Linked DNA regions of Homo sapiens: all the other regions are reported to be linked to region 2. Evidence: microRNA targets listed by miRTarBase, many of them from high-throughput screens and not tested one by one. Region 2 holds a microRNA gene; each other region holds the end of a gene's coding sequence.
The links. The annotated mature microRNA hsa-miR-659-3p reads CUUGGUUCAGGGAGGGUCCCCA and lies in region 2 at 3,928-3,949, shown strand. An mRNA with a match to its seed (bases 2 to 7 or 8) in the 3' UTR can be bound and repressed. Matches are read on the target gene's strand: a 7mer-m8 pairs with bases 2 to 8, a 7mer-A1 pairs with bases 2 to 7 and ends in A, and an 8mer does both.

Region 1 (4,000 bases), not on the chromosome of region 2:
GGCTGGTCTTGATCTCCTGACCTCAGGTAATCCACCTGCCTTGGTAAGTGTTGGGATTACAAGCATGAGCCACTGTGCCCGGCCCACTTGCTTTTATTTAATAACTTGCTAAAAAATAAAAACAAAAAACATTAGCACTTACATGTGGCTCCATGATGTCTTTCTGGTAATTCTGGAAACTTTTTGGGTTATAGAATTTGAAGAATCTATTTAGAGCTATAGAACTCCTCTTAATCCTCCCCAAGTTGTACTCAACAGATTTATTCCTTGCTCCCTAAAACCTATCCTTAGAAATTGCAAGTTGAGAATTCACCCCACCACTGCCCACTGTTCCAAAAAGCTTTACTGAATCTCATTAATGAAAAATAATGTAAAACTCTCCATAGGAGGCATTAACATACTTGTTTCTTCCAAACCTTCTGATTTCCACTAAAATTTGTAACCAAAATATATTAGGAAAAAGTAATTAAGCTTTAATGCTATTGCCTGGCCCAGTCTAACTATGATCTTTTAATTGTGGAGACATGGCAGTTCCCTGAAAGACCACAGCCTTTGGAGACTAGCAAACCTGGCTTGATCACTGGTTGATAGTTATTTTGCTGTATTAATTTGCCTTACTTTTCTGAGTCTGCATTCTCATCTGTAAAATGGGTGTATGACTTATGATAGGGAGCTATTTGAAAAACAAAACATCTGACACAGAAAAGGCTGAATTAAAACCTTTAGAGACCCAAAGCAGCAGGGCTATTGTGCCCAAATCACTCAAGGTATTGGTAGGAAAGAACACAAACTGAGGAAGGTTTAATAAAGGACTATTTACAGAGACATGGACAGAGTGCAGGAAAATCAATGAAGAATAATGGCGTAATCCAGGGCTGGTAACTAAGTCCTTTTTTTTTTTTTTTTTTTTTTTTTTGAGACAGTCTCGCTCTGTTGCCCAGGCTGGAGTGCAGTGGCACGATCTCAGCTCACTGCAGCCTCTGCCTCCCAGGCTCAAGCAATTCTTGTGCCTCAGCCTCTCAAGTAGCTGGTATTACAGACATGCATCACCATGCTTGGCCAATTTTTGTATTTTTAGTAGAAACAGGGGTTTCATCATGTTGACCAGGCTGGTCTGAAACTCCTGACCTCAGGTGATCTGTCTACCTCAGCCTCCCAAAGTGCTGGGATTACAGGTGTGAGTGACCGCACCCAGCTTGAGTCTTCTTTTTTTTTTTTGGAGACGGAGTTTCACTCTTGTTGCCCAGGCTGGAGTGCAGTGGCACGGTCTTGGCTCACTGCAACCTCTGCCTCCTGGGTTCTGGCAATTCTCCTGCCTCAGCCTCCCGAGTAGCTGGGATTACAGGCATGCGCCACCATGCCCAGCTAATTTTTGTATTTTTAGTAGAGACGGGGTTTCACCATGTTGGCCAGGCTGGTCTTGAATTCTTGACCTCAGGTGATCTACCCGTCTCGGCCTCCCAAAGTGCTGGGATTACAAGCGTGAGCCACCGCACCCAGCTCTCGAGTTCTCCTTTCTTTCTATTCCTAGATGTGAAGGAGCAAAGAGAAGGAGCCAGAAGCTAGAGGGGGCTGCTTGGTAAGAGCTGTGGTCTTTGCTAAAGGGACACAGACAACCCATGTGACCTGGCAATGAGAAAGCCAGAGTACTCTGACCATCTCTTCCTTATATCTTCTCATCTTCTTTGGATATTAATAATTGGATAAACAGAAGCTGAAGTCAGAGGGCAAGGGAGCCATTCATGCTGCAGTCCATGTGGGTCAGCACCCGCTGGGGTCCAGAGTGGGATGAAGAGGGGTTCTGAAAGGCAAATGGAAGACATCTAGTATAACCTCTCCCTGAACGTAATTCAAACTACTTAACTATTATTACAGACAAAAATCACATGTATGCTGAAAGTAAAATAACCTGTTTCCAGAATTTCTGATTGCAAAATTCTGAGTTCTTCAATTAAACCTGCATTTTTCTCAGTCTTTTTGGTGCCCCTGCTTCACTGGTGCCTTAAGAACATTTGAGAGCCTAAGGGCAGCCCTGAGCATGGTGCCTGAACTAGGGTGCCTCAAAACTAGGGACTGAGGAAGTCTCAAGTTCATTCCTGAATGCTGACTATAAGAGTCTCTGAGAGAGTTTTGAGAATGTAGAACTGATTTAGAATGAATCTCAGGATTTTTCTGTTAAGATCTATAAATTAGGAATTAAGGAACTGGATTTTTTTTGAATTTGAAAAATCCTATGATAGTATAACTTTGCATAAGCCTACTGAATGATAGGAAAGTTTTTAGTTTCTTATCAAAGAAAGAGAATAAAGTGAATCAGGACATCAGTTTCACATTGACATTTTTATTAACGCCAACTGTTTTTTAATTATTTTTTTAAAACAATAGCACAAAAATGTTTCAAGGAAGCAGTCTCACAATCTGATGACCTTCTGAAATACCGTTAAGCCACACCAAATATGAATTTCTGTTAATAACACAAAATATTTTTTTAAGAAAAAAAGAAAAAAAAGGTAGGGAAAGAAGAAGGGAATGAGATTTAGATTTAAAACTCATTGGATTAAATAGGTGAGGCTTATTAGGATATACTGTTGAAGCAAACAGTGGCACACACAGGCTTACAGTCTTTGTTTTTTAAACCAGTTACCACTAATGTATTAAGCCCTGCAGCAGTTACCACTGACTTCTCGCACGCATAAAATGAACCGGGAGAAGCCAGTGTTGATACTGTTGTGAAGAGGTTCAAGAGCTGGCTTTTCAGACAACTAAGACCATTTTTAGCAGAATAACTCCTTCAGAAAGGCCTGGCTGAAGATCTTTTTATTTCTATTGTCTCACCTATATAAATTTCAGGGTTCTTATAAGTCATCTTTAAAAAGAAAAAAATAATGTATATCAGTTTCTCTTATTTAATGTGGCTATGAAAGATGTTTCCTTATTATTTCTTCATCTCTAAGAAGGACACCAGGGAATGGGGGTTGGGGGTGGAACTAAAGGGAGGAAAAAAACCAGAACAGGGTAGGTTTTTGTTTTTTGCTTTTTGTTTTTTTTTGGCCAAGGGGTCGGTCACACAGAAGGGAAGGCAAGGAGGAAAACTAAACTACAATCCTTGGTTCAGATTGAGTTATGCAGGAATATATCTTCCTGATCAGTCCCCGTGCCAAAAAAAAAAAAAGCCACTTGGAATTATGCACTGACTCCAACTATGTGATACCAGCTATCAGCCTTTTGTGTTTAACCATTCCCAGAAATGGACACCACCCTTGGCTTTATAGGCTCCTTGCAGAACCCACTTCACAAAAATGCTCTTCACCAAGAAGCCTCTAGTTTCCTTTTGGTAGGTTATAAAAACAGAACATCTGTCATTAACAGTAGAGTGTTAAATACTTTTAACCACTGACAAGGCTTCAGAAAGTTTCACAGTTTCGTTATGCTCTATTTTATTACTATCATATTTACATTTTTATTTTTTATTTATTTTTTGCTGAATTGCTGATTTTCCTTTTTCAATAGAATTTAATTCTGGAGTGTGAGCAGGAACCAGTTAACTACATTCATTGTCCAACCCCCACTGGTTTGAAAGAAGACTCCAAATTCTTGGCATATGAATCAGCTGTTCGGTAGCTCCACCTTATCCCTGCAGCGAAGCAGCAGAACCGCCAATGGCGGCACCTCAGGATTCACACTGTGGGTGGTGAGGCCTTCCGCTGAAGGAGGTACTGGTGGATGCTCTCAGCATCTCGCTTTAGCCAGGCAGCATTCAGCAGAATATTTTCACAACACTGCTGGATGGTACGCTCAGCTGAAGGAGCTGGGTGACTCTCGAAGAAAGCCTGGTATAAAACAACCCAGAATGCAGGATCATTACTAGCAATAAGAAGTTAATATTACAGGTTATGAAAAAATACCCACTGGTCTATATGAAGGATGCATAATCTTCAGGCATGAGAATTTACCACTGCCACCCTCAGGCTAAAAGAAAACAAGCAACTCCTTGGACCTG
Region 2 (6,405 bases):
TAAAATGTCCCTAGCCTCAAGGACTCACAAAGACCCCCACCCCCCAACCCCCCCGAAAGTACTGTTTACAGAGTGCTCACCTCATTTGTAGGAACTATATTACCAGGCCAGTCCCACCCAGAAAGAGGCCCTTTCAGCCAGTAGCCCATACCTGTTCTCATAGATGTCCTGGATCTCATACACCTTCTGGTCAATGACATCACTGGAGACACGACTGGCCTGTAGCTCATACACTTTCTGGTCAATCAAATCTGAGACAGTTTTGTGGAAATACTGGATGAAGTTTTTGATCACCTCAGGGATCACCTGATAGGTTTGCTGTTCATACTGACGTTCATAAGCAAGGTCCTGCTTTGGATCTCCTGGAGGTTGGATACAACAAATACAGAGTATGCTCAAACCCACATATATGATAGAACGAAATGGCAAGACCACCCCAGAAACTAAACTCAGGTCTGCGTAAAATTCCCTTTTGAATACTCAGAGATACAAACATCTCAAGTCACTCCCAATCTCGTTGTCCCTGTTTCTTCAAAAATATTACCATGACTTAAAGTTATTTTTCACTTATTATCTGTTTTGCACCCTTCTCCCAAGTCTAGGAAGTCAGGAATCTCGTCTGTCTTGTACTCAGACATACCCTCAGGGCCTAGAAAAGTGTGCGTTGGAGGGGAGAGAGGCAAGACTGTTGGAAAGTAAGTGGTAACAGGTACTTAATATTTCTTGAATGAATAACTGTCACCTTTTAAATATATGACTGTGCCAAGTTACTACTAATAAACCTCTCTGCTATATTTTCTATTCTTTAGGAGACATTAACATACAGAACTGCTGTAAGGATTAAACAAAATATTTCATACAAAGTACTTAGAACAATGGATAACACTGACTACTAAGTCAAGTCACTATAACGTTTCAGGAAACCTCAGACACCTCCTAAAAAGATTTCATTCGGGCTTGGTTTGAATTACTTAAATTTTTCACATCAAGATTTTCTTCCTTGGGGCAGGCGCGGTGGCTCACGCCTGTAATCCCAGCACTTTGGGAGGTTGGGGCGGGTGGATCACCTGAGGTCAGGAGTTCAAGACCAGCCTGGACAACACGGCGAAACCTCGTCTCTATTAAAAAAATTTAAAAATTAGCTGGGAATGGTGGTGGGCGCCTGTAATCCCAGCTACTCAGGAGGCTGAGACAAGAGAACTACTGCTTGAACGAGGGACGCGGAGGTTGCAGTGAGCCGAGATCGCACCACTGCACTCCAGCCTGGGGGACAGAGGGAAACTCCATCTCAAAAACAAAAACAAAAACAAAAACAAAAAAGCTTTTCTTATTTGGCTAATAGTTTACACAAGAAAACCATAGCCAGGTAAGTAATCCTTCTCTTCCAAGACTGAGGTGGACTATGATAAAAAGCCTGGTTTATTAGGCTTTATAAAACCCCTCGCACTGGCAGCTAATGACTGACTCCAAACCTGGACCATCAAAGAGCAATTTTTGATGCCTGTCAGAGCTGGTTCTAAGACATTCCAAAGGAACTGATCCCTACGAGTACTCAGCCAGCCTAACCCGTGGTCTCACCTGTGTGCATATCATAGTCGCTGGGATAAGCGTAGGGGTCATAAGCCGCCTAGAAGGAAAGAGACACAGTCAAGGACAGCCGCCAAGTCGTGAATTCAAAACGCTCATCCTAGAGTCTAGATGCCAAGCAGAGAGCTAAGGATACAGAGGCGAATAAGACACTGTGCCTGCCTTTGAGGAACTCACACGCCTTAGAGAAAAGGGACAGTAAACAGACAATGACAATACAACATTACGGGTGCAATGAGGTGGAGCAAAGGACAAGAGGCTGTGGGAATCAGCGAGATTTGACCAGACGGAGCCTAGACCAAAAAAACTCAGGTGCAGAAACACAGAAACGTCTAACAGGCCTTAGTCTCCGGTCTTAGAAAGGGGAAGGACAAGCCAATCGAACACGCGAAGTGGGCGGGCAGAGCCAGGGTTGTCTAGGGACCGGGAACTGTGGGAGCAGCCTGAGGGCCGGGCGGGAGGTCGGCCGGAGCTGGCCGCGACCCGGAAGCTGCCTCGCGCCGGGACCCACATCCAGTGGTCCCAGAGATCACCCCGTCGTGGAGCCCACCGCGCCCTTACGGCCACCTTACCTCAGACTCATAATCATCAGCGGGATAAGACATGGCTGCCTCGCTTGCGAGCACCGCCGGAAAGAGCGAAATGAGCGGCCCGCGCCTGCGTCCTGAGGCCGGAAGTTCAGCCCCACTCGGGCCTGCCGGGAAACCGGAAGCCTTTCCGAGGCCTCTGGCCATCTGAGACAGCCATATCCAGAAGGAAGAGGAGCCGCGTTCCGTGGCTCACACCTGTAACCCCACCAGTTTGGGAGGCCGAGGCGGGCGGATCACCTGAGGCTGAGGCCGGGGGTTTGAGACCAGCCTGACCAATATGGAGAAACCCCGTCTCTACTAAAAATACAAAATTAGCCGGGAGTGGTGGCGCATGCCTGTAATTCCAGCTACTCGGGAGGCTGAGGCAGGAGAGTCGCTTGAACCCGGGAGGCGGAGGTTGCGGTGAGCCGAGATCGCGCCATTGCACTCTAGCCTGGGCAACAAGAGGGAAAACTCCGTCTAAAAAGAATAAGAGGGTTACAAGTAGCCTGAATTTTCCTCTCTTCAAATAGGGACTTCTCAAAGAAGGTGAATCTATAATAGTGGTGTAGATTCAGATATAAGGACACGTATTTGGCGTAAAGGAGAGGCAAAGTTAGAGGAACCAGAAAGAATGCTACACAAAAGATGGCCGGCTTCTCGCGTGAAGGAAGATTCGGATACGGGGGCCTGATGGATTTAGTTGTAGGCGGTTTGCCTGCAGCGAGTAAATTATTCAAACGTTCGGACTTCACAAGACTAAACTTACTGGGGATAAAAATTGAGATTTGGCCGGGCGCGATGGCTCACGCCTGTAATCCCTACACTTTGGGAGGCCGAGGCGGGTGGATGATCTGAGATCAGGAGTTCGAGACCAGCCTGGCCGAAATGGCGAAACCCCGTCTCTATTAAAAATACAAAAATTAGCCGGGAGTGGTAGCGTCCGCCTGTAATCCCAGCTACTCAGGAGGCTGAAGCAGGAGAATCGGTGGAACCTGAGAGGCAGAGGCTGTAGTGAGCCGAGATCGCGCCACTGCACTCCAGCCTGGGCGACAGAGCAAGACTCCGTCTAAAAAAAAAAAGAAAAAAAAAAATTGAGATTTGGTCCCATGCAGTAAGAGGGAATGGAGAACAGGAGCCACCCAACTTTGGACATTAAAGTTGGAGCAGGCAAAGATGAGGCCAGCTGTGTCGCGAAGCCTGGGACATGGGCAGCTCTTGAGTACACCGGGTTCGAGGCCAGGGGAAACCCTCAAGGTAGAGATGGGGTTATAAAGCAAACCAATAAAAACCGGTGTATGAGTCAAGGAGAGGCCTTAGTTTAGCCATCTGCCCATACACAACACCTAGTGGAAATCCGAGTTCCAGTCCCTACTCCGCCACTGATTTGCTGTGTGACCAGGACTCTCTGGGTCCCTTTGTCACGCCGCCCTCCTTGCTTTTCCCACTGAGGCACGCTCCACCTCTGGGATTTTGCACTCACTGTTATCCAAGTCTAGAATCGAATGCAGTGGCACCCCCACTCCCATTCCCTTCCCCATCGGTATCTGCATGGCACCTTCAGGTGTCTGCTCTGATGCCATCCACTCAACATCCTATTGAGAATTGCAATGCCCAGCCCCAACTCCCTATGCTGCGTTCTTGTTTTGTGTTTCTTCCTTGTGCTGTCACCAGAGGTGACACAAATTTGGAAATAATGGAGCTTAAGCTTTACCGACCCTCGATTTGGTTCAGGACCTTCCCTGAACCAAGGAAGAGTCACAGTCTCTTCCTTGGTTCAGGGAGGGTCCCCAACAATGTCCTCATGGTCCTTTGCTTTTGTAAAATTTGTGAAATATTTTTATTGCTGAAACCACCTTTGCAAAAATTGTAACAGTGAGAAAATAATGACAGTGAAAGAGATCTGATCTAACCAACCCTCATCTTCCATTTAATCTTCAGACTGCCCTTAATCATTCCTGGCTCGAACCGAGCTAACTTTGGGAGACATTTAGTTTCTAGTTTAAATAATAACCCTTCTCCGAGGCCTGGCACAGTGGTTCACACCTGTAATCCCAGCACTTTGGGAGGCCAAGGCAGATGGATCACCTGAGGTCAGGAGTTCGAGACCAGCCTGGCCAACATAGTGAAACCCCGTCTCTACTAAAAATATAAAATTAGCCGGGCATGGTGGCATATGCCTGTAGTCCCAGCTACTCGGGAGGCTGAGGCAGGAGAATCACTTGAACCTAGGAGGCGGAGGTTGTGGTGAGCCAAGATTGCACCACTGCACTCCAGCCTGGGCAACAAGAGCAAAACTGCCTCAAAAAAAAAAAGAAAAAAGAAAAGAAATTGGCCGGGCGCGGTGGCTCACGCCTGTAATCCCAGCACTTTGGGAGGCCGAGGCGGGTGGATCATGAGGTCAGGAGATCGAGACCATCCCGGCTAAAATGGTGAAACCCCGTCTCTACTAAAAATACAAAAAATTAGCCGGGCGTAGTGGCGGGCGCCTGTAGTCCCAGCTACTTGGGAGGCTGAGGCAGGAGAATGGCGTGAACCCGGGAGGCGGAGCTTGCAGTGAGCCGAGATCCTGCCACTGCACTCCAGCCTGGGCGACAGAGCGAGACTCCGTCTCAAAAAAAAAAAAAAGAAAAGAAATTACCTGAAATCTTATAGTCCATATATGACAGGAATTTGATACAGGTTGCTCCAATTTGACAACAATTCTCAAAATGTTCATGACATTTGAGAAGGAGTTGTGAAGTCAGAAGATTTTCATGGGGCTGGATGTGGTGGCTCATGCCAGCACTTTGGGAGGCCAAGGTGGGAGGATCACTTGAGCTCAGGAGCTCAAGATCAGCCTGGGCAATATAGTGAGACCCCATCTTAAAAAAAAATTGGGGCCCAGGCACTGTGGCTCACTCCTGTAATCTCAGCATTTTGGGATGTGGAGGCAGGAGGATCCCTTGAGGCGAGGAGTTCAAGACCAGCCTGAACAAAAAAGTGAGACCATGTCTACAAAAAATCAAAAAAATAATTAGCCAGGCACGGTGGTACACATCTGTGGCCCCAGCTACTCAGGAGGCTGAGGTGGGAGGAAAGCTTGAGTGCAGTGAGCTGTGATCACACCACTGCACTCCAGCCTGAGTGACAGTGAGAGATCCTGTCTCAGCACTGTATCCATTATGGGGCAGACGAGGAGAGTACAAATAAACATAGCATTTTTTTCCATATAGTACAATGATAAACCTCACAATGGCGACTGCAAACACTGAAAATTCTGGAAGTGCTTTTCCAATTGTAAGAGAAAGATTACTTTTTTTTTTCTTTTTGAGATGGAGTCTTTCTCTGTCGCCCAGACTGGAGTGCAGTGGTGCGATCTCGGCTCACCGCAAGCTCTGCCTCCTGGGTTCACGCCATTCTCCTGCCTCAGCCTCCTGAGTAGCTGGGACTAAAGGTGCCCACCACCACACCAGGCTAATTTTTTTGTATTTTTAGTAGAGACGGGGTTTCACCATGTTAGCCAGAATGGTCTCAATCTCCTGACCTCGTGATCTGCCTGCCTCAGCCTCCCAAAATGCTGGGATTACAGGCGTGAGCCACAGCGCCAGGCCTTTTTTTTGTTTTTGTTTCTTTCTGAGATGGAGTCTCGCTCTGTCACCCAGGCTGGAGTGCCATGGTGCGATCTCAGCTCACCGCAACCTCTGCCTCCCAGGTTCAAGCTACTCTCCTGCCTCAGTGTCCTGAATAGCTGGGATTACAGGCGTGCGCCACCACACCCAGCTAATTTTTGTATTTTTAGTAGAAACGAGGTTTCATCATGTTGGCCAGGCTTGTCTTGAACTCCCGACCTTGTCATCTGCCCATTTTGGCCTCCCAAAGTGCTGGGATTACAGGCGTGACCCACCGTGCGGAAAGATTACATTTTAACTGGGTTGAGTGGGAGGGTTTATATATGGAAAGAACTTTTGCCAGGACACAAGACCTGGTCCGGTGAGAGCTGGGCAACTGTGAATGAGTCTCTTCCCTCTGCTTTTCAACTCCTCACCTATAAAATAGGGATGGTCCTTCTTGTCTACTTTATAGAAGTGCTTGTGGGGTACGGGATTGTGAGAAGTTTTATGAAAACGTGCACCCATGAAATGTTGCTTGAGGAACACTTATTTGTTTCCTGGTCTTCTCCCATTGGATTGTGAGCATCTCAGGGGCACCAAGTCTGATCCTGTGTCCAGGACCTAGCAGTTACCTGGCTCAGTGACTGGCTGTCGAA
Region 3 (6,405 bases), not on the chromosome of region 2:
CATATACTACACAAAGTACACTACATTCAGAGTTCCAAATTTAGGGTTACAGCTGTTGACTGCTTTCTTTTGTGTGTGTGTGTGTGTTTCCTTAAATGGCTTTAAAAATGCCAAAGATTATGGAGGGAGTCACTTAAAATACAGTGTGTATATAACTGGTTTTCTTCTCCAATTCTCACTAAAATTTGATTGCTTTCTGTGTGTCTGTGTATGTGTGTTTCCCTAAATGGCTTAAAAAATCCCAAAGATTATGGAGGGAGTCACTTAAAATACAGTGTTTATATGACTTGATTTCTTTTCTAATTCTCGTTAAAATTGAAGTACTTCTGTGACCCTATTTTAAGAAAAAGAATAGGCCAGGTGCGATGGCTTACACCTGTAATCCCAGCACTTTGGGAGGCTGAGGAGGGCAGATTACTTGAGCTCAGGAGTTTGAGACCAGCCTGGCCAAAGTAGTGAAACCCTGTCTCTACTAAAAATACAAAAATTAGCCGGGTATGGTGGCAGGCACCTGTAATCCCAGCTGCTCGGGAGGCTGAGGCAGGAGAACCACTTGAGCCCGGAAGGCAGAGGTTGCAGTGAGCCAACAACATGTCACTGCACTCCAGCCTGGGTGACAGAGTGAGACTCTGTCTCAAAAAAAGGAAAAGAAAATGAAAATTTCACAAGTTTGTGCTGTTGTCAAGAATTTTAGAAGCATGTAGGATTCTCAAAGGTGGATGGTTAAAGTTTTCTGTGGAAACATTATATTTGCGCTTTTAATGAATTGGGACTCATTTGGAAATGAAAGTCTGATAAAGAAAGATACATTATCAGCCAGCCTGATGGCTCATGCCTGTAATCCCAGCACTTTGGGAGGCTGAGGTGGGAGGATTGCTTGAGGCCAGGAGTTCGAGACAAGCCTGGGCAACATAGTGAGACCTGTCTCCATAAAAATATTTTTCAAATGACCCAGGCGTGGTGGCGTGTGCCAATAGTCCTAGCTACTATGGAGGCTGAAGTGGAAGGATCACTTGAGCCCAGGAGTTCAGGGCTGTGGTGACCCATGATTGTGCCACTGCACCGTAGCCTAGGTAGCAGAGCAAGACCCGGTCTCTAAAAGAAAGAGAGAGAGAAGGGGAGGGAGAAAGGGAAGGAAGGAAGGAACCCACATTCTTTATAACTCTTTGTGCGTTCTTTCTACAAATCTATCTGACCATGCTGAATTGAGAATGAGGAAGGAGAACATGGCCTCCCATCTTCTTTAAAGTTTTCAGTTTAACATGTTTGATTACACAATCATAGAAAAAAGCAACACGTGACTGGGAGATTGGGAGGCCGAGGCAGGAGAATCGCTTGAGCCCGGGAGGCGGAGGTTGCAGTGAGCCGAGAACACTGCACTGTGGATGGCAAACCCACACCCTGTCTCAAAAAAGTTAAATTAAATTAAATAAATAGAAAAACATTACAAATGAAAATTACTTAAAATCCTGTCACTTGCAGATAGCCACTATTAAAATGTTGTTATATATTCTAGACTTTTTATGTGTATCTGATCGTATATTTTTTTTAAATGGCACATGCTATTTTACAACTTTTTAAAATGAATTTAACAACTTTCTGAACAAAAATATATAATGCATATCTTTTTAATATTGTGTGTATATATGTAAAGATATGTATTGCATACATTTTAACCTTTTTGTTGTTCGTCATTGTTTAGGAAAAAAAGACAAGGATTCTAAGTGAGCTATACTAAAAAGAATAACTATGATAGTTTTATTTAGCACATCAGTGAATATATTCTCTATAGCACAAGAAATTACTTGCTTGCTCATTGATTTCTTTTTCTTCCCTGCTGTATTTGCAGAAGATGAACAAGTTTCTGCTGTTTGAGGCACAGACTTTTCTGGAAGCAGAGCGAGCCACCTGAAAGGAGAGCACAAGAAGACGTCCTGAGCATTGGAGCCTTGGAACTCACATTCTGAGGACGGTGGACCAGTTTGCCTCCTTCCCTGCCTTAAAAGCAGCATGGGGCTTCTTCTCCCCTTCTTCCTTTCCCCTTTGCATGTGAAATACTGTGAAGAAATTGCCCTGGCACTTTTCAGACTTTGTTGCTTGAAATGCACAGTGCAGCAATCTTCGAGCTCCCACTGTTGCTGCCTGCCACATCACACAGTATCATTCCAAATTCCAAGATCATCACAACAAGATGATTCACTCTGGCTGCACTTCTCAATGCCTGGAAGGATTTTTTTTAATCTTCCTTTTAGATTTCAATCCAGTCCTAGCACTTGATCTCATTGGGATAATGAGAAAAGCTAGCCATTGAACTACTTGGGGCCTTTAACCCACCAAGGAAGACAAAGAAAAACAATGAAATCCTTTGAGTACAGTGCTTGTCCACTTGTTTACAATGTCCTCCTTTTAAAAAAAAAAAATGAGTTTAAAGATTTTGTTCAGAGAGTAAATATATATCCATTTAATGATTACAGTATTATTTTAAACCTTAAGTAGGGTTGCCAGCCTGGTTTCTGAAAAACCAAATATGCCGGACAGGGTGTGGCCACACCAAGAAGACGGGAAGACCTGGCTTGTGACCCTGGCTTCCCATGTCCTTCTGGTCTCACCCGCGAAGTGCCCTATCCTGGAAGTATGAAATGTTAGCCAATTAATACCAAGACACCTCATCTGCTCCTTCCCCAGTGGATGGGGTTCTTCTGTAAAACTGTTTGCACATGGCCAGGGGAGGGAACTAGGACCCTTGTGTCCTGTCTGAGCCTTATGGAGGCAGGACGGTGTCATTGGCGGATGTGTCCTGCTCCATTGAGATGGATGGCAAACCCCATTTTTAAGTTATATTTCTTTGATTTTTGTTAATTTAGAGGTGTAGGTTTTGTTTTTTGTTTTTTTGTTTTTTTTTAAGAGAAACATTTATAACTGGATAGCATTGCAGTGAAAGCAGCTTGGGATGTTGGAGCTAATGCCAGCTGTTTATACTGCTCTTTCAAGACAGCCTCCCTTTATTGAATTGGCATTAGGGAATAAACAAGCCTTTAAACGTGATAAAAGATCAAAAACCTGGTTAGACATGCCAGCCTTTGCAAGGCAGGTTAGTCACCAAAGACTAACCTCCAAGTGGCTTTATGGACGCTGCATATAGAGAAGGCCTAAGTGTAGCAACCATCTGCTCACAGCTGCTATTAACCCTATAATGACTGAAATGACCCCTCCACTCTATTTTTGTGTTGTTTTGCACAGACTCCGGAAAAGTGAAGGCTGCCAATCTGAGTAGTACTCAAATGTGAGGAACTGCTGGTCTTGGATTTTTTTTCCATTAAATTCAGCTGATCATATTGATCAGTAGATAAACGTAAATAGCTTCAAATTTTAAAAGTGGAATTGCAGTGTTTTTTCACTGTATCAAACAATGTCAGTGCTTTATTTAATAATTCTCTTCTGTATCATGGCATTTGTCTACTTGCTTATTACATTGTCAATTATGCATTTGTAATTTTACATGTAATATGCATTATTTGCCAGTTTTATTATATAGGCTATGGACCTCATGTGCATATAGAAAGACAGAAATCTAGCTCTACCACAAGTTGCACAAATGTTATCTAAGCATTAAGTAATTGTAGAACATAGGACTGCTAATCTCAGTTCGCTCTGTGATGTCAAGTGCAGAATGTACAATTAACTGGTGATTTCCTCATACTTTTGATACTACTTGTACCTGTATGTCTTTTAGAAAGACATTGGTGGAGTCTGTATCCCTTTTGTATTTTTAATACAATAATTGTACATATTGGTTATATTTTTGTTGAAGATGGTAGAAATGTACTATGTTTATGCTTCTACATCCAGTTTGTACAAGCTGGAAAATAAATAAATATAACATAAAGCCTTGCCTATATTCTTAATGAATCATGCATGCTTTTTATTATTAAATTGGAATAGAAGCCTTTCGTCTCCTGCAGAAGCAAGTCCTTCGGCTGGAGAGATTTAGCCTCATGGTTATTGGAAACTGCCCAATAGCCTATTTATTTTAGGCAGATCTCTGTTGATCCAAAGCAATTAATATCATTAACGTTAGCACCAGCCAAACCATGTTCAGAATTCAGTGTTTCTTGAAAATGAAGATGCTGTCACAATATATTTGCATAACATTTGTCTCTTCTCAACCGTTTCCAACAATAATCTTTATGGTACGTAATATTTTGGTTCCCAGTATACATACTGAGAGACAGGACCTCAGAGAAACTGACATTCAAGGTCATGATTATTAAGTGGAGAGTACAATTTAGCTAGTGATTCTGGACTTCTAACTAGTACACAATATGAGTGCTGATGTGTGGTAAGTCTGAATAATACTTTAGTCTATCAGAAGGGCACTTAATTTTAAAAGGTAAAAACCAGTAAGTAGCAGCCTGCTTACGCACATGTTTAAATGAGTGACTCATTTCTTTTCCTCAAGCAAGCATAACTAAAAGTATTAGCCATCAGCCACTGAGAAGTCTCAGAAGTCAGAGTGGAAGCAACTGGAAGCAGAGGCACCAAACACTGGAACATGTGAGGGAGCCTGAAGAGGAGCGGGAGGAAGGTCCCTCCAGAAGCTAACAGGAAAATGGCCAGGGCTAGGCTTCAAGATCTTTCCAAGGTATTCGTGCCAGCTATTTTGCTGAGAAATTTTGAAAACCTGGACACCAAAATAGTCGGGAAAATTATTTATTTATTTATTTATTTATTTATTTTTTAACCATTCTAGTAGCTTCAACCACACCTTTTAAAAAATGAAGAACCTGCGTGTTTGTGTATGTTGTTACATGCTCATCTCTGTTGTCTTTTCACTTTAAAACCCATTCCTCAGGGACTTTCCTAGACTGTCACTCAGCTTAATTTTCTCAAACTTTTTTTGAAAAAATACTAAGAATCTGATGTTTTGGAGAATAACCTCTTTATCATTACTGTGTGTGTTCTGCTAAAAATATGAGACAGTGACAAATAGGGCATGGTTCGTTTTCCTTTTAGGTTTTATTAGACTTTTATGTTTTAGGATACTTCCTCCGTGTAGCACAAGACTGGTCTCCACTTAAGGGTTTCCAGAAATAAGTATTTGCCAAGTGTAACAGTTTGCAGGGACAGAGTTTATGTTATGTTAATAATAGAACTTTGCCAAGTTTTAGGGATATTGTAGAAGGTTTTGGTGAAGGTCTGATGCTCTCCACCCTAATCAAAGAGGCCACACAGACCGGGGTCTGTGTTTTCATACATACAGGTTGAAGTCCTCAGAATGTTTTTCTCAGCCTCAATCCATTTCTCTGCTTTTGGGAGGTATAGATTTTATGCTCATCTATGATTTAATATGTTTTACCTTTAGTTCACTGATAATATCCCAAAATGAATAATGCAAGCTTCTGAGGATGCATGTATCAACACACCTTTTGGTCTCTGCCTCTCAACGCCAGTGCACTACATTCATGCCAAAGAAAAATAGGAAACTCTCTTGAGCGCTTTATCCCATGATACCAGCATTCTTTAAAAAAAAAAAAAAAAAAGGCTTACCTAGAGAATAAACGTAATGCAGCAACTGAGGAGTCAAGTTGTTGATTGCAGAGGTAAATTATTTTGTGAAGATTCACTAAGGGTATAATATCAGCAGAGGTTGTTGAAAGGGGCAATAAGACGGAAATGTGTAAGGCAAACTGCAGCTGAGGCCAACATGACACTTTCAAGAAAGATTTTAAAGTGAGAATTTACCTATTTGAGAGTGAGACGAAAATACTGACTGGAACTGAAAAATAATTTATGAATTGCCTTTTTTTTTGAGACAGAGTCTCACTCTGTTATCCAGGCTGGAGTGCAGTGGCGCAATCTCAGCTCCACCTCCTGGGTTCAAGCGATTCTCCTGCCTCAGCCTCCTAAGTAGCTGGGACTACAGACGTGCACCACCACACCCGGCTAATTTTTGTGTTTTTAGTAGAGACGGGGTTTCACCATGTTGGCCAGGCTGGTCTTAAACTCCTGACCTCAAGTGATCCACCCGCCTTGGCCTCCCAAAGTGCTGAGATTACAAGCGTGAGCCACTGTGCCCGGCCTGAGTTGCATTTTTTAAAAGATTCACATTTTAGCCAAGTACAAGGCAAGCTAGTTGTTACTATGCCATAGCCATATACCAGAAAATTTTATAGAGGCAATCACGACATTCCATGCAAGGTTAAGAAATGCCAGAAAAGACTTTATTTCATGGGCAATCAAGATGGTAACAATTCTTATGGGAAAAATGTCTAAGCCTAGAATAAAATATCTGAAATAAATTGAGTCAAATGACCAGCTTTATAAAGACTGAAAGTGAAATCAACTTAATTCAGAGTGTTCAACACCTCAAAAATAGAAGTAAGTTTAATACAATTTAAGAAACTT
Region 4 (4,000 bases), not on the chromosome of region 2:
CAAGTATGTGGTCAGTTTTGGAATAGGTGTGGTGTGGTGCTGAAAAGAATGTATATTCTGTTGATTTGGGGTGGAGAGTTCTGTAGATGTCTATTAGGTCCACTTGGTGCAGAGCTGAGTTCAATTCCTGGGTATCCTTGTTAACTTTGTCTCGTTGATCTGTCTATTTTCAAGTTCCTTTACTCTTTCCTCAGTTATCCTCACTGCTATTTAAGCCCAGTCAGTATTTTTGCTTTATTTCAGAAATTATATTTTTTGGTTCTAAATTTTTCATTTTAAAAATTGTTTCTATGTCTGCTGATATCTCCTATTAAATTGTTGCTAACGTATTTTATTTTACTTCATTGTGGATAAAGTGGTCTTGGTTCTCAGGGATTTGTGTCTGGCTAGAGGGGTTGTAGGAAGGTGGTACGAGAATCTTTTTTTAACATGTGACGAGATGATAATGATAACAACCATGAAAATATCAACAGTGACCACAAGAAGAAAACCAACGGCTTCCAGTCATGGTAAAACACTGTTGAAGGCACAAGACAAGCTTCACTGCCCACTTTGTCTAGGATTTTCTGTGCCTAGACAGGAGAAAGACACTCTGATATCCTACTGCCTTTCATTAGCCAAACTGCAAACAAGTTACCCAAAGACCCAGGTCTTGTCCGTAAGATGTTTATTGCTATATATTTCTAACCTGGCCAGGTACAGAAAGGCTTTCCAGTAATACACGTAATAAACCTCAATGTAATAAATCCTCCTCTGGGGGAGCAGAAATGAGATGAGATCAGCACACAAAAAGCATAATGGCCCTAGTATAGAGTAATATGCAACTGTGTTTAAAGCAAAGCTAAAATAATTATGGCTGCTGCTCTAATTGAGGAGTGATATATTAAATATATCTTTCAGAGCAGTTCACAGATCTATATGAAAATCTTTGCAACAGAACCAACAGATAAATGTTCAGTGACAAAAATGTATGCAAGTTTAGTCTATGCATAATTATTTTATGAATATTACATAAAATATATTTGACTTTTAGAAACCTAATCTTGATTTAAAAACTAGTTAAAATTTGTAACTTTTCTGAAAACATTACACAACACGCTTATGAAACTAACAGAATATCCCATAGCACGTGATCAAAACAGAAATACACACCACCACCTTGTACCAAATCCAGAATAAAAATATAATCTCTTCTATTTCTTCCCTTTAAAAAAATCTACATGCAAAGATGACAAGAGACAGGAGAATGAGTCAGTGTGCTCAGCCTAAGGCAATGATGCTTGTTTTGCAATGCCCAAATCATTTCTAGAATATGCTCTTTCATGGTACACTGATAAAGAAAGTCTTAGTAAAAAACCAAGTGATTTCTAATAGCTCTTTCCCATTCAAGTGAGGCCAGCTCAGCTAACTCACATGAAGCCATGCTGTGACCCACAAAGAACATGGGTGTGCTGGAAATGAAATGCCACTGGAGCACTGAAGTACCTTGAACCTCCCTAATTTGTTTTCTCAGCTGCCTCGTTAACTTGCTCCAGGTCCTGGTTTCTCTCTCGGCTTTCATCTAACTTATTTCATATTCATCTCCTCTTACCCACTAAACCAGGGTTCTGTAACTCAAGTAGCTCTTGAAATCCCCCTTTCTTCCAAGAAGTCCCCCCTGACTTGTTGGAATAGTAGTCCTTGAACTCCCTCACTTGGGTATGGGGTTTTTAGGCCTTTACCTTCCACTCTGAGCCATAAAAGCACTACCGGTTTCCGTGTTGCTACTGTTTATTAGCCTCTGGAATTGATGAACTTTCTCTGAGCTGTGACCCAGGTGGATGGATGTCAGAAAGCATATTCCGCTGGAAGGAAGAGCTGAGCAGTAGTGAAGTCAAGGACATACAGAGCCAGAGTGTGAACATGAGTCCTGCTACTTACTGCCTTGCAGTCTTACGGAAGTCACCAACCTCTCTCTAAGCCCTGATTCCTTCCTCTGCTAAATGGACGTGGCGGTAAGCTAGCCCACATGTATCATAAGGCTGTTGTGAGGATTCAACGAGGCACTTCATGGTGTGCCTCGCACATGGTAAGTCCCCAGCAAACAGAATTAGCAGGACCTGACAGATGGTTTCTGACAATGTGTTTACCAATACAGGGTTAACCAGAATGTAAGTATTTTGGGTGTTAACAGTAGAAATATGAAAATGTTGAAATAAAGACACTTAGGGAAAAATGTCAAGTAAATTACAACTTACATTAAAGGCAGATTCTTTATTGGCTGAATGTGCTGTAGTAGATATTTAAAATATCACAAACATTCATGATTGCAGTTTTTAAACTTAGCTCACAGTTGAGTTAGATACAACAGTTAACATACTTAGGAAAGACAATTCTTAACAGCTTTATCAAGCACATTTGTGAAAGATTAAACTTTCATTTCCAGTTACCATGATGTCCCCCCATACACCAAATGAACCAACACATTTATTTATTTTAAATAATGGAAACTGTACATGGCTACACTGTGCTCTAAAATTACTTGCATTAATGAGGACATTAATTTTAGCATTTAAAAAAAGAGATTTAAAAATAACCATAGAAAAACTTGAAAACCCTGACAAGCCGACTACAAAGAGAATTCCTCTCTGAAAATTTTCAGATGCGACGGTATGAGGGAGTTGGGTGGGCCGCTGACTCTGAGAGAAGTCCCGGTGACCTGAACCTATTCCAGTGAAGCCAGTCAGCAGTGAATGTGGGGCAAGTGCATGCGGCTGGTCTACAGCTCCCATTGCCTGGTGACCAAGGAGCATCCTGAAGTTTCAGAGAAGAGACTGTGTGACAGCAGCATTGTTCCAGCTACTGAGCAAGATCCTTCAGCAGGTAAGAAGTGGCAGAGACAGTCACCTGCTGAAGGAGCGGGCAGGGAGTTGGCCGTCCACGCGGAGCCTGGCCTTTCCGTTAGGGGACCCTGAAGTCTGCGACCGCCCCGCCAACACCTCAGAGTGTAACACAGTGCCCGTTACACATTCACACTCCATCACAGATAACACACAGGGCCTCAGGGACTGCAACACGTGCATGTGTAGTGACGCACGACAAATTAAGAGTGAGTGAGAATGAAAGCTCATGCTTAGCCCTGTGAAAAATAAAAATCAGATAGCAAAACGCAAAGTTAAATCACAGACACCTGGACCACAAATAATCTACCCCAGTTGTAATATGTATTTTAATGGAGACCATAAATTTTTCCAAAAACCCGCTTGAATTAGAAAACTTAAGGCCATTTATATGAAATGAGGGTTTTAAGCACAGCTGTACAGTTTAGGACAGTAAGAGCTCCAAAGATGTCTACATAGCTTTCCAAATCTCGTATCAGTCAGTCTCTCCGTGTGTCGTGGGAGCTGCCTGCGCTTCCGTGAACGGGACACTGAGAAATGCTTCAATATGTGCCACGCCATTCCAGAAAACTCCCTGCAGAAGCAGCTCTTCCTGCAGCACTCAACCTTCTGCTGAGATGCAAAATATATTTTAAAATGTATTTTAAAGTCATACAGGATCTGATCTAGTAAGAATGGCAAAACAAATACTTCCTGGGCATTTCAAATGAGGTCATTTTGGTTGAAATGTATACCAACAATTTTCGAAGTCAGAGGAAGAAAAAAGAGAAAAATGGCAAACCCAATGTTTAATACACCAAATACCTTTAGGGTACTTAGAGAGTGAACAGTCTTATTACGTGTTATTTTCCTGGACTTCTTTTATGTGGCAGATATTTATGTTTTCATCATGGTTGAAGAAGCTGCTTGGAAACAGGTGAGCTGCAAGTGCATGCTACTCTTGAACTTGTTCAGGAGCTCTTCCAGTAACCTGCAGGACGGAGACACTTGTTTTACAGCCCGACAGATGGGGCGGCCTAGCAACGCAAGAAAACACCAGGGGAGCCAGTGCCCGGCTCTGCCTGGGCTTGCTGTGTGGAGAAGGCAGCTGAAAAGTTCTACCTATGGATCCTTAACTCAGC

Region 1: the mRNA of NPEPPS is a reported target of hsa-miR-659-3p. Seed matches in the 3' UTR shown: 7mer-m8 at 3,107-3,113.
Region 3: the mRNA of RAPGEF2 is a reported target of hsa-miR-659-3p. Seed matches in the 3' UTR shown: 7mer-A1 at 2,520-2,526.
Region 4: miRTarBase lists EXOC2 as a target of hsa-miR-659-3p. Seed matches in the 3' UTR shown: 7mer-A1 at 3,596-3,602.

The regions. Positions count from the first base shown.
Region 1 is chr17:47,621,598-47,625,597 of GRCh38, reverse strand. It overlaps NPEPPS (aminopeptidase puromycin sensitive), which reads right to left. Exons shown (of 23, transcript NM_006310.4): 23 at 2,322-3,830. The coding sequence ends at 3,678. KPNB1-DT (KPNB1 divergent transcript) reads left to right here. Exons shown (of 4, transcript NR_171700.1): 4 at 3,511-4,000. Among named protein-coding and RNA genes, the nearest start is that of KPNB1-DT, 26 kb to the left of the region's middle.
Region 2 is chr22:37,845,237-37,851,641 of GRCh38, reverse strand. It overlaps MIR659 (microRNA 659), which reads left to right and starts at 3,868; the gene lies at 3,868-3,964. It overlaps EIF3L (eukaryotic translation initiation factor 3 subunit L), which reads right to left and starts at 2,223. Exons shown (of 13, transcript NM_016091.4): 1 at 2,160-2,223; 2 at 1,579-1,627; 3 at 152-362. The coding sequence starts at 2,192. It also overlaps a transcript of ANKRD54 not described here. RefSeq lists enhancers at 1,537-2,058, 2,059-2,581, 2,582-3,104.
Region 3 is chr4:159,356,265-159,362,669 of GRCh38, forward strand. RAPGEF2 (Rap guanine nucleotide exchange factor 2) reads left to right here. Exons shown (of 30, transcript NM_001394067.2): 30 at 1,850-3,909. The coding sequence ends at 1,875. Among named protein-coding and RNA genes, the nearest start is that of MIR3688-1, 230 kb to the left of the region's middle.
Region 4 is chr6:482,916-486,915 of GRCh38, forward strand. EXOC2 (exocyst complex component 2) reads right to left here. Exons shown (of 28, transcript NM_018303.6): 28 at 2,239-3,849. The coding sequence ends at 3,756. Among named protein-coding and RNA genes, the nearest start is that of IRF4, 93 kb to the left of the region's middle.